Homo sapiens: one gene and its partners. The protein of the gene in region 3 purifies or fractionates together with the protein of the main gene of each other region. This does not show direct contact. Each region holds a gene or a part of one and is shown on either strand. Other genes may lie near its edges.

Region 1 (3,500 bases), on a different chromosome or scaffold from region 3:
AGTGGGAAGTGGGGGAATTAAGGCATCACAGATACATAACTTCTGAGTTCACACAAGTAGCTGGTGGAGTAGCTGGAATTTGATCACAGGTATTCTGACTACAGAACGTCTGTCTCTTTTGTGTCTTATTTCATTAAAAAATATGGAATGCTGTGGGGCTATTGTGGATTCGTACTTGCTGGTGACCTTGGGGAAGCTCCTCCTCAATTTCCTTAACTCCTTCCTTACTTGTTTTTGTGGGGATTCAGATAATTTGTGAAGCAATCAGATGGCGTATATGTTTAGTAAATTATATGCCTTAGCCTTTTTTTTTTTTTCATTGAGGATGAGGTCATTTGAAAGATTGTTAGCAGTTGAAGGAGGGTGGAAAAAAAAAAGTTCCACATAAGGACACTGCCCAAGCAAAGGTATAGAGATAGGAAAAGCAGAATACATTTGGTAAGGATATATGTTTAAGGACCAGACTGGTAAAGATAGATGGATACAGATTATGGAGATTCTTAAATGTCAGACTAAAGATTTTATATATGATTTTTAGTTAAGAAGAAACTCTCTTTATGGATAATAATTTGTGAACAGGTCCAATGGAAGAGTGGAAGCCTAGAAGTAGGAATACCATGCAATTTAATTATAGTAGTTGAGGCAAGAAGTGATGATCGTAGTGAAGGTATAGATTTGAAAGATGTTGACATTATAATGACATTGACACTGGGAACTGACCAGAGTATAGGCCTAGGACAAATTTTTGGGAGGATAGTGATGTTATTAACAGAAATAAGGATATTATCATGAAGAACAGGTTTTGGTGGAAGGAGATTTAGGAGGAGAGAGGATGATAGGGAGTTTACTTTTGGAGCTGAGGAGTTGTTCAGACGTTTGGAAATGTAGAATGAAAACTGGAAGTTCTGTGTATTCTATGAAAAGGGAAGAGAACAAATGCTTACATTGTAAGGAAATGACCTAAAAGTAACCACTCCTCTGTGGGTCAGAGTTTCACAAGAGGGATGTGACTCCTTAAATTACTCACAAGTACAGATTTCTCAATGAAGATGCACCCATTATTTTTCCCTTTAGTGTATTTTGATTCGTGTCCTGGGAGATCAGGAGGTAAGGTAGTGGGGAGGAAAAACTTTTAGACCTAGCAAGGCTCCCATTTATTCAAAAAATAGCTAGTAAATTGGAGGCTAGGGATTCTCACCGTAAGAATTTTGAGAGTCTGATTTTTGTGTGGTACCAGGCATTTATAAACATATGTTGAATGCTGAATTGTTGAACATTTGAACATCTCCAGATTTGTTATTTTTATTATCCTGTCTTTGTTACCTTGAATTGGTTAATAGCAAAACCTTTAGAATCAGAGACTCTGTGTGCTTGTTATGGGGGGCAACAATGAAAGTCAGGGTGCAGCTAATGAGATTGTATTTTACTTATAGCCAGGATTGTGGAAGAAGACACTCAAAGGATAAGAGGCTTACCATTTTTCCCATTCTGTAAAACCATGTTGATGACAATACCAATTCTGAGAGTTGTTTTGAAATACTGAGTTAATATATGAAAAGGGTCTGGTACATGATAGATAGTAATTGAGATGTTTTTGTTACCAGTATTATTATCTTCACAAGTGGGGGGCAAACACAGAGATCCCAGAACCTATTATAAGAAAAAAAGGAAAACATCTGGAGACCCTTTGTACTTGAAAAAGGGCTCAGGACTAAGTCATAGAAGGACTGTAGGTTTCCTTTCTTGGAAGGTTTTCTAGGGTTTGGTACAATTGGGTAGAGCATGATGTTGAATTAAGTAGTAAAATATATCCATCTCAACTATTTTCAGTTTCCTGTCAAGTTCTCAGTAAACCAACAGAAAAATGTTGTTGAGCATGAGAAGAAGGTTTACTTTTCTTGTCATACCATTTTTGGAAACATTACTTGGATCCTACTACTTAGGGGTTTTTCTGTAGCATTTATTCACTCAAATATTTGTTGAGTACCTTCTTTGTCAGGCACTGTTCTAAAGAGAAAAATCCTTGCCTGCATGGAGCTTATCTGCTAATGGGAGAAATAAGGTGCATTTTCATAATAGACGGTAATTAGATTTTTCTCGTACTATGTATTTGTACCTATTTAAGCAGATGGTAATAATGAATACTATACCAGATTGTAACTAATTTTGCAGAGCATTTGAAGGAAGGGACCATGTCTTTCTTATTCGCATTTGTCTCTCCCTTTTCCCCTTCCTCCCAGTGGAATGGCTTAGATGTGTTTAATGCTCAACAAACGTAGGTACTCATCAAATGTTTATTACAGGGAGAAGGTGTTAAGGCAGAGGCTACATCTTAAAGATTAAAGGAGTCAGTTAAATGTGGCATGTATTAAGGACCCATATACCCCCTAGATTGAGGGTGAGAAGAAGAGAATCCGGCTGGGCACTGTGGCTCATGTCTGTAATCCCAGCACTTTGGGAGGCTGAGGTGGGCAGATCACTTGAGACCAGAGTTCGAGGCCAGCCTGGGCAACATGGTAAAACCCCATTTGTACTAAAATACAGAAATTAGCCAGATGTGGTGGCGTGCTCATGTAATCCCAGTTACTTGAGAGGCTGAGGCAGGAGAATTGCTTGTACCTGGGAGGCGGAGGTTGCAGTGAGCCAAGACCGCGGCACTGTACTCCAGCCTGGGTGACAGAGCGTGACTCTGTCTCAAAAAAATAAAATAAGATAAAAATAAAAAGAGAATCCCCTGGCTTATCTATGAGGTTGGAATAGGAATAAAGTTATATTGTAGCTGAAAGCATCAACATTATGGGAGTCTGGGTGTCACCCAACATTCCCACTAATTAGCTGGGTGATTTTGCATAAATATCTTAACCTCTCAGTTCATTTCCTCACCTGTAAATGAAGTAGTTGGAATTGTCCAGTTAAAATCTGTTTTTACGACTTCTTGTAAAATATCTCTTGCACTAATGTTTCACTTCACTAACGTAGATAATATAGAGCCAAGCATGAGCTTCCATTGAATAAGCATCAAGCTAAATATATACTCTTAGTTAATAAACTAATGTTTAAGAAAAGATGTCTACAAAATTTGTTGATGCTATTTACCGGTAAGATTACATTGTAATTTTTTAAAATAGAGCAAAATATTACCTAATATATAGTTTCCCCCATTGCCATTATGTAAAGGAAAAATAAGCCATAGTATTTTAGACCTTAATAATGGATCATAATACTCACTTTCATACTTTAATTTATACAACAGTCACTTGCCTCTGATATTGTGCTAGATGCTAGGTATTGTATACAGAATTAGAAAATGTATAGCTCCTAACTTTAAGGAGCTTAAGGAATAATGGGAGTGACAGACCATTTAGTTGTGTTGCATTTTGGTGGCATAGAGAAGCATATAATGAGAGTCTGGGAGAAGAGAAAGTGCTCATGGTTACAGAGAAAAAGACTGGAGGAATGGCAAGGGACTAAGCTAAATATACAGAGACGAGCCAGTTTAT
Region 2 (3,500 bases), on a different chromosome or scaffold from region 3:
AATGGGCTTTTAGAATAGATATGATAGTTTTGTGATGATATCTGTTTAGGTGTGGTGTGGAAATTTCTCATCTCAGGTCATGAGTCAGATTGACATCTTTCCTGGTTGCCCCTGGGAAGTAGATTATGACAATTGAGTTCTTTTGGAAGGCTCTGTTTTAGGCAGATAAGAGATTTTAGGAACTCAAATGCCTTCTGCTTAAAATAATTTTTATGCCATAGTAGCGTATTCTGGACCCCTTCACAATCACTGACCCATTTATTTTTATTTATTTATTTATTTATTTATTTATTTATTTATTTATTGAGATGGAATCTTGCTCTGTCACCCAGGCTGGAGTGCAGTGGCGCGATGTTGGCTCACTGCAAGCTCTGCCTCCTGGGTTCACGCCATTCTCCTGCCTCAGCCTCCCGAGTAGCTGGGACTACAGGCACCCGCCACCACGCTCCACTAATTTTTTTGTATTTTTAGTAGAGATGGGGTTTCACCATGTTAGCCAGGATGGTCTTGATCTCCTGACCTCGTGATCCGCCCGCCTTGGCCTCCCAAAGTGCTGGGATTATAGGCGTGAGCCACCGCGCCTGGCCTCACAGACCCATTATTTTGATGGGCTACTTAGTAATGACTTCAGAATTTAAAAAAATTATCCATTTAGTGAAGGTGTCATTATATATTTATTACTACACTTTTTGTGAACTACTTGTAATTGATCCATATATGATTTTCACATAGTGGGGAGGGATGTCAGAAAAAAAAATTTTCATGTAATAGTTACTCACAATAGGTCTATGATGGTGACTACCACAAAACAAGTTCTTTTGTATCTGTCTTCCTGCCAGTTGGCCTTATGACCTCATATTCTTTTTTTTTTTTTTTTTTTTGAGACAGGATACAGGGTCTCACTTTGTCACAGAGGCTGGAGTGCAGTGGCGTGAACGCAGCTCCCTGCAGCCTTAACCTCCTGTGCTCAGTGATCCTCCTGCCTCAGCCCCAAGTAGCTGGGACTTACAGGCAGGCGCCACCACACCCAACTAATTCTTATATTTTTTATAGAGACGAGGTCTTACTATTATGTCCAGGCTGGTCTCGAACTCCTGAGCTCAAGCTATCTGCCCGCCTTGGCCTCCCAAAGTGTTGGGATTATATGTGTGAGGCACCATGCCCAGCATGTTTTCATCTTTATTGGCCTGTCAAATTTTTGCTTATTTTGTACATTTTGATGGTATTTGGCTTTCACTTGGCTGTACCTGGCTTGAAGGCACCTCTTTAGCGTATTAGCTTGTGATAAGATTGTAAATACAACCTGTTTGCTCACGCCTGTAATCCTAGCGCTTATAGAGGCTGAGGCAGGAGGATTACTTGAGCTCAGGAATTTGAGACCAGCCTGGGCAACATAGTGAGTCTCTGTCTCTACAAAAAAAAAAAAAAAAAATTAGGCCGGCGTGGTGGTGCATGCCTGTAGTCCCAGCTTCTCAGGAGGCTTAGATGGGAGGATCGCTTGAGCCCAGGAGGTCAGAGCTACAGTGAGCCATGATTGTGCCACTGTACTCCAGCTTGGATGACAGAGTAAAGTGCTGTCTCAATCAATCAATCAATCCATAAGTAAGTAAATAAAATTGTAATACAAATATGAAACTAGGCCAGGACATCTTGTGGCAACATTGGGCTGTGAGATGGCCTATTTTTATCCAAGTGACCCAACATATGCTTATATATTATTTTTTTACAAATGTTTTCATTTATTGAGACATCTCTGTATTCCCTCTGTTACTTGCTACTGTTTAGTCCATCTTTTTTTTTTTTTTTTGTCACCCAGGCTGGAGTGCAATGGTGTGACCTTGGCTCACTGCAGCCTTGACCTCCTGGGTTCAAGTAATCCTCCTGCCTCAGCCCCCCAAGTAGCTAAGACTACAGGCGCATACCATCAAGGCTGGCTACTTTTTGTTTTTTTTTATAGGCATGGGGTTTCACCATGTTGCCCAGGCTGGTCTTGAACTCCTGGGCTCAAGCTATCCACCTGCCTTGGCCTCCCAAAGTGCTGGGATTACAGATGTGAGCCACTGCGCTGGCCTTCATTGTGGTTTTGATTTACATTTCTGTTATGACTAATTATGTTTGTATTTCTCTAATGACTGATGATGTTGAATGTTTTGGCATGTGCTTATTAGCTATCTTCTTTGGAAGTATGTTTGAATGTCTATTTAAGTCCTTTGCTTATTTTTTAATTGAGTTATGTGTTTTTATTGCTGACTGTAAGAATATATGTTTTACTTTATTTCTTAAAGTATTGCTATATTCGTTGGTAAGACTAATTTTTCCTCCTTTTATTGGAAGGTCCTGTCCAAAATGCATTGCTGTCTTCACAAGAGTCAGTGAGCCAAGGATACAATTTCCAGCTTCCAGGATCCTACCCTCATCCAATACCAGCAAAGACTTTGAATCCAGTCTCTGGACAGTCTAACTATGGTGGTTCTCAGGGATCTGGGCAGACTCTTAATAGACCACCTGTGGCCTCTAATCCAGTGACACCTTCGCTTCATAGTGGTCCTGCTCCCCGAATGCCATTACCTGCTTCTCAGAACCCAGCTACTACACCAATGCCTTCTAGTAGCTTTCTTCCTGAAGCCAACCTGCCACCACCTTTGAATTGGCAATATAACTATCCATCCACAGCCTCACAAACAAACCATTGTCCTCGTGCATCATCCCAACCAACTGTATCTGGAAATACAAGTTTAACCACAAATCATCAATATGTTTCTTCTGGATATCCTTCACTTCAAAATAGCTTCATAAAGTCAGGTAGTATTCTTATAGAAGTGCTTAAAATGTAGAAATGTGAAACTTTTGCTTATTTAGATGTTTGAAATAATACTTGAAACCTGAAAACCATATGGAAAATGTGACTTTTAAAATTATTAGTAGTTTTTTGTTGTTTTTTGTTTTTCGGCTTTCCAGCAAAAACCAGAAAGCCTGCTAGACAAATTAAGTAAGCTATAACACTCATTAGTAGTTTTTTTTTTCATTCTTTTTTCTCTTTTTTTTTTTTTTTTTTGAGATGGGGTCTTGCTCTGTCACCCAGGCTGGAAAGCAGTGGCACAATCTCAGCTCACTGCAACCTCTGCCTCCCTGGTTCAAGCAATTTTCCTGCCTCAGCCTCCAGAGTAGCTGGGATTATGGGATTACAGGCACGTGCCACTGCACCCAGCTAACTTTTTGTATTTTTAGTAGAGATGGGGTTTCACCATATTGGCCAGGCTGGTCTTGAACTCCCGACCTCAGGTAATCCGCCCACCTCAGCCTCCCAAAGTGCGAGGATTACAGGCGTGAGCCACCACACCTGGCCACATTTATTTATTTTATTTATTTATTATTTATTTATTTTTTTGAGACGGAGTCTCTCTCTGTCGCCCAGGCTGGAGTGCAGTGGCGTGATCTTGGCTCACTGCAAGCTCTGCCTCCCGGGTTCACGCCATTCTCCTGCCTCAGCCTCCCGAGTA
Region 3 (2,252 bases):
GATTACAGGCTTGAGCCACCGCACCCGGCCTAATCTCAGTTTTTGAAGTGCTCCACAAGTCATTAGGCACCAAAACATTTTCACCTGGGGAACACTGGCATTTCCCTGATTAGCTGTGAAGCAATCTAGTGGCTAAGTGTGAAATCCTGGGTGCGCAGGTGTTCTCACTCCCGCCGTGTTCTCAGTGCAGTGGTGGTCAGAGGCCCTTCCAAGGAGACATCACTCTGATCAGTTACAGATAGATGTTCTGGAAGATCTGCAGGTGAGTAGATCCAGCAGAGTTTCTTCCCACCAACTCTAGAAGAAAGGGCCTTATCAGAGTTGACCCTGAGCCTTTGGTAAGGTTTTGTGTGCATGCGATTCAGTTATCTTTGGCAATTCTTTTCTTGCTGCAGTGAGAGATTAATTGGTTGCTGATCAAACCGTTCATGCAGATGGGGGGACCTTTGGATTGTACGGCTTTCTCCTCTTGGCTGCTTTCTTTTCAGGAAGTTGGACTTTGGCCAGGTTTGGCTTTCCCAGAGCCGTTCCTTTCTCTGTCCTTTCCTTGGGTCCTCATGGTGTGCCCATTGGATCCTTGGCCTTGTGATCCTCTGGGAACTGGGGGCCAGTTCCACTTTTGCAGCCTTCTGTGCTGGAAGAGAAGCCCAGCGCCCTGGAAGGAGCCTCTTTAAGTCCCCCATGTCGCTTTCTCTCTCTGCTCTTTTAGTGTCTGAGATTGCCTTTCTTTGAATTTCCCAGTGTTTCTTTTCCTTGTCCCTTCCCTCACCAACCTGGAGTTATTTTGGTTGACTATGTCCTGGCTTTGGCTTCTCCTGGCAGGAAGTCATCAGGCATCCTCTCCAGGTGAGCCGAAATTCCACCCTCCCAGGTTGGACATCATCTTTTAAACCCAATGGTCTACTCCCCTCCTTCTTTATGAAACAGTGATTTCCCGTGAGTAACTCTGGTTCTGATTTTTTGTACCGGCGCTTAAATTCTTTCTGTAGACGTTGGAAAGCCACAAAGAACGTGACTGCAGTGAGCCTCCCACTGGAGCAGCCTTAACCAACACTTTGGCCAAAGCCCCCCCACCTCCCCTGTGTACTGTGTGTGTGTTTGGTGGATACAGTATTCCTTTTCAGTGTCCCTAAAGCTGTGATGGGGAGTCCCCACTTACCTAGAAAGCATTACCAGTCACCTACTCTGCATTCTCAGATGTAAACCTTGTGTAGTGTTCTTTTTGCAATGACCTATTTATTTAACCTATTTATATTTATTTAATTTTTACTCTGAAATGTATCCAGTTACAATTGTACTTGCTTAAAGCACATCAGATTTGTTTTGGACAACACCCTTGACCATTTTAAAACTGGAAAAGTGATACTGTATCCTTCCATGGGATGGATGCTTTACAGTAGTCTTATTATTAAAGGGTGATTAATTTGGTCGGGGTAAAATGTTAATTTTTAGGTGATTTTTAAGAATTCTGTGCCATTATGTCTTCTGTGTGGATGGTTAATTGTTTAATTAGTACGTGTTAATTGTGTGATACAGTCTTCTTTGTGGAACCCAAAATCCTCTTTTTAGCTTTATATTTTATAAACTGCCAGATTGTACAACTTTTATGTGCATTTTTAAAGCTTGAAGACATGAGGGTCATTATCTAAGTTAAACAGCCTATTTTTGTGCCTCCTGTACAGTTTTATAATTCTGCTGATGGCGGCATCTTATGTCGAGCCAACCACAATAAAGGTAGTTTTAGATTTTGGAGTCAGTCTCATTTTCTTAAAGATTCAAATACCATTCTCAGATAGGCTGTGCTCACTGTCCTTCTGGGTGGCCGGGGCTGGATTATGAGGCCTTTGCAGCTGGCTCGGCTGGTGGGGGATGGGTGTCCTCATGTCCACAGCAGGGTCCGGGGACTGGAACACCCTCCATGGTGGCTGTGTGTCAGAAAAGCTTCTTTGAAACCTTGCAGGAAGTTCCCAAAAGTACTGATTTGGGCTGAATTCCAGGAAGGTGGCCAGCTGGGACAGTCATGCCACGTGGTGAGAATTGGGCTTCAAAGCAGAGTTTGGGGCATGTGTACAGTAGGTAGGATACCAGACCAGGAAACCCAGGAGGGGAGAAATGCCATTGAGACCAACAAGGGCTGGGAGTGCCCCCAAAGAGTGGGACAGCGGCGTGTGGAATGAGCTCAGCTGACGTCTGCTTGGACTTTGCAATCCTCCCAACACACCTGCTCCTTCCCCTGCACCCTCTCTATGGAG
Region 4 (3,500 bases), on a different chromosome or scaffold from region 3:
AAACCCCGTCTCTGCTAAAAATGCAAAATTAGCTAGGCGTTGTGGCGCATGCCTGTAATCCCAGCTACTCAGGAGGCTGAGGCAGGAGAATCGCTTGAACCCGGGAGGTGGAGGTTGCAGTGAGCCGAGATCATGCCATTGCACTCCAGCCTGGGCAACAAGAGCAAAACTCCATCTCAAAAAAATAAATAAAATAAAGCAAAATTATAGTACACATTACATGTATGACCTGATAAAAACTAAGATTTTCTAATGTATTCTTTTGTTCGATTTGTTGATTAAAATATGTGTTTTCCCTATAGATGTTTTTCTACCTACACCGGATAGTTTACTTGTGAATCTATATGAAAGTAAAGAGGTAAGATTGATTTATTTTCTTAAAGCATAAAAATATTTATATTGTGACTGGTAACTAAAATATTTAACATTTGTTTACTTGATATATTAGTATTACAAATAATAGACAATATAAATGGCATATCTATTGACTCCTCAGTTTCCAGTCCCCAGAAATACAGTGACACATGATACACTATGGAATGTTTTAAAATAAGATTATTCCTTTGCCTTCTCAGTAATTCAATTTTTGATCTTTGTTTTCTCAGCTTATAAAAGACTTACTGAATGCATTACCAAACATGTTCACCAATACAAGAGAAACACACAGTGCCCTTGGTCCTGCACTTCAGGCTGCCTTTAAATTAATGTCTCCAACAGGTGGCCGTGTGTCTGTATTTCAGACACAGTTACCTTCCTTGGGTGCAGGACTTCTGCAATCCAGAGAAGATCCTAATCAGAGATCAAGTACAAAGGTATTTTATGTTTAGTTTTTTGTCATATTCAAGATTGTGTAATTATTTGTTTATTCTATTTCATTAATAATAAAATACTGGCAAGAGAGTTGGGTTTTTTTGTTTGTTTTTTGTTTCTTTTTTGAGACGTGGTCTCACACTGTTGCCCAGGCTGGAGCGCAGTGGCGCGATCTTGTCTCACTGCAACCTCTGCTTCCCAGGTTCAAGCGATTCTCCTGCTTCAGCCTCCTGAGTAGCTGGGATTACAGGCGTGCACCACCACACCCGGCTAATTTTTGTATTTTTAGTAGAGACGGGGGTTTCACCATGTTGGTCAGGCTGGTCTCGAACTCCTGGCCTGGTGATCCGCCTGCCTCAGCCTCCCAAAGTGCTGGGATTACAGGCATGAGCTACTGCGCCCGGCTGCCTGAGAGTTTTTTGTTTTGTTTTTGTTTTTTTTTTTTGAGACGGAGTCTTGCTCTGTCGCCCAGGCTGGAGTGCAGTGGCGCGCTCTCAGCTCACTGCAAGCTCTGCCTTCGGGTTCACGCCATTCTCCTGCCTCAGCCTCCCTAGTAGCTGGGACTACAGGCGCCTGCCACCACACCTGGCTAATTTTTTTGTGTTTTTAGTAGAGACAGGGTTTCACAGTGTTAACCAGGATGGTCTCAATCTGCTGACCTCGTGATCCGCCCACTTCAGCCTCCCAAAGTGCTGGGATTACAGGCGTGAGCCACCGTGCCCGGCGAGAGTTTTTAACTCAAATTATCTTTTTGGTTTTGTGTCACAGTATGTTCTTTTTATACTTTGTAAGTCATAGAAATTTAGAAATCATTTAGTCTAACTTTTTCATTTTATAGATGAGGAAGTAGAGTGTCTAGTTAAAGGTTAAATAACTATTTAATGGTAAAAGTGCAACTTGATTTTCTGACTCCAGTGTTCTTTTCTATTACGTAAGTGGTAAAACTTACTAAATGTAACTATTGTAATTCAACATGCTCATACTAATAAACTTTTTAATTATGAAGATAACACAGATCATTGTATAACACTTGGAAAGTGGAGAAAAGCATAAATCACCAATAATCTAACGATACTAGCATTTAGTTATACAAACATACAAATAAGCATAATTGGACATCATACGTGTGTGTGTGTATATATATGTGTGTGTGTTTGACCTTTTTCATTGGAGAATATATTGTGCGCATTCTCTGAAGTCACAGAGAAAGTAAATGTGAAAGTAATCAATTGATTGCTTTTCAGCTATTAAATAGTTGTCTTCAGTATTTTTTTCTTTTGTTTTTTAAAAGTAGAGACAACATCTTGCTGTGTTGCCCAGGCTGGCCTCAAACTGCCGAGATCAAGCAATACCCCTACCTCAGCCCTGCAAAGTGCTGGGATTGCAGATGTGAGCCAGACCTGTATTTGCACTATTTTTTTTTTAAAAAAGGGCTGGGTGTGGTAGCACCTGCCTGTTACCTTAGCTACTCAAGAGGCTGAGGCTAGAGGATCATTTGAGCTTAGGAGTTCTAAACCAGCTTGGGCAATGTAACGAGACCCTATCTTAAAAAATAACAATAATGGCCGGGTGCAGTGGCTCACACCTATAATCCCGGCACTTTGGGAGGCAAAGGTGGGTGGATCACTTGAGTTCAGGAGTTTGAGACCAGTCTGGCCAACATTGCAAAACCCCATCTCTCCTAAAAATACAAAAATTAGCTGGGTGCGGTGATGCAAGCCTGTAATCCCAGCTACTCAGATGGCTGAGGCAGGAGAATCACTTGAACCAGGGAGGCAGAGTTTGCAGCGAGCTGTGATCACTGCCACTGCACTCCAGCCTGGGCAACAGAGCGAGACCCGGTCTCAAAAAAAAAGAAAAACAATAATAATAATAACAATGAAAGGAATATACGAAGCTGAACATTACTTGGGTTTTATGTGAAGATTTGGTCAGGCATTTTTAAGCCCTATTTCAAATAATAAATGAACAAAAATATTCATTTTTCTTTTGTACAAGTTCTGTCTGGCCTTAACATATTTGAGAAAATATCATTATAAGTAGTTATGAGTATGAATTAAACAGTTTTAATAGTGTCATAAATCTTTAGCCACATATCCAGATTTGCCTTAGGATAAATTCCTAGAAGTGAAATTATTGGGTTAAAGGGCATAATCTTTAAGTTATTAAATAAAGAATGTTTTGTTTATTTGGGTTTTTTAATCAACTTCTCTTCTTAAGGACTCTCATCCTGTAACCACCATTAAGTAGCATTGCTTTTTTTATTCTTCACCAATATGCTAGAGAAAAAAAGGCACCATATTTCACCCTTTATAGAAATTGTATTTTAAAATTGCATTTGAGAAGGAAGCTAATTTTAAAATAAGTATGTATTTTAAACTCATCAACAAGTGTAGCTGGCATTTAGTTCGTTGACCCATTACAATCCATTATAAATTACTGTGGTGTTTTGAACACAGGAAGCTGATATATATTTACTGAATCCTTTGATAGAGCTTTGTTTTGATTTGTTTTGTTTTCTCATTTAACTTTCAAAAATATTCTCTATCTGTCTGCCTAGGACTCTAAAGTTTCAGTATCTGTTCTGGTTTACATATTCCTTCATATCCTTAATTCCTTATATTAGAGTAAGCTCTAATATAATCATCATACAGTGTAATTAAGAGGATTGAAACTTTTTTTTAGGAAAT

Evidence for each region.
Region 1: the proteins of ERN1 (region 3) and RNF13 purify together in Homo sapiens (affinity purification with western blotting; one study listed by BioGRID). This does not show direct contact.
Region 2: the proteins of ERN1 (region 3) and SEC24A purify together in Homo sapiens (co-immunoprecipitation; one study listed by IntAct). This does not show direct contact.
Region 4: the proteins of ERN1 (region 3) and SEC24B purify together in Homo sapiens (co-immunoprecipitation; one study listed by IntAct). This does not show direct contact.

Annotation. Positions count from the first base shown.
Region 1 is NC_000003.12:149,816,215-149,819,714, forward strand, and holds part of RNF13 (E3 ubiquitin-protein ligase RNF13 isoform 1 precursor), read left to right. Parts: intron 1-1,072; exon of another isoform or gene 1,073-3,500. UniProt on the Homo sapiens protein: E3 ubiquitin-protein ligase that regulates cell proliferation. Involved in apoptosis regulation. Mediates ER stress-induced activation of JNK signaling pathway and apoptosis by promoting ERN1 activation and splicing of XBP1 mRNA.
Region 2 is NC_000005.10:134,658,785-134,662,284, forward strand, and holds part of SEC24A (protein transport protein Sec24A), read left to right. Parts: intron 1-2,334; coding exon 2,335-2,802; intron 2,803-2,945; exon of another isoform or gene 2,946-3,005; intron 3,006-3,500. UniProt on the Homo sapiens protein: Component of the coat protein complex II (COPII) which promotes the formation of transport vesicles from the endoplasmic reticulum (ER).
Region 3 is NC_000017.11:64,038,642-64,040,893, reverse strand, and holds the end of ERN1 (serine/threonine-protein kinase/endoribonuclease IRE1 precursor), read left to right. Parts: 3' UTR 1-1,752; downstream 1,753-2,252. UniProt on the Homo sapiens protein: Serine/threonine-protein kinase and endoribonuclease that acts as a key sensor for the endoplasmic reticulum unfolded protein response (UPR).
Region 4 is NC_000004.12:109,520,815-109,524,314, forward strand, and holds part of SEC24B (protein transport protein Sec24B), read left to right. Parts: intron 1-302; coding exon 303-358; intron 359-605; coding exon 606-812; intron 813-3,500. UniProt on the Homo sapiens protein: Component of the coat protein complex II (COPII) which promotes the formation of transport vesicles from the endoplasmic reticulum (ER).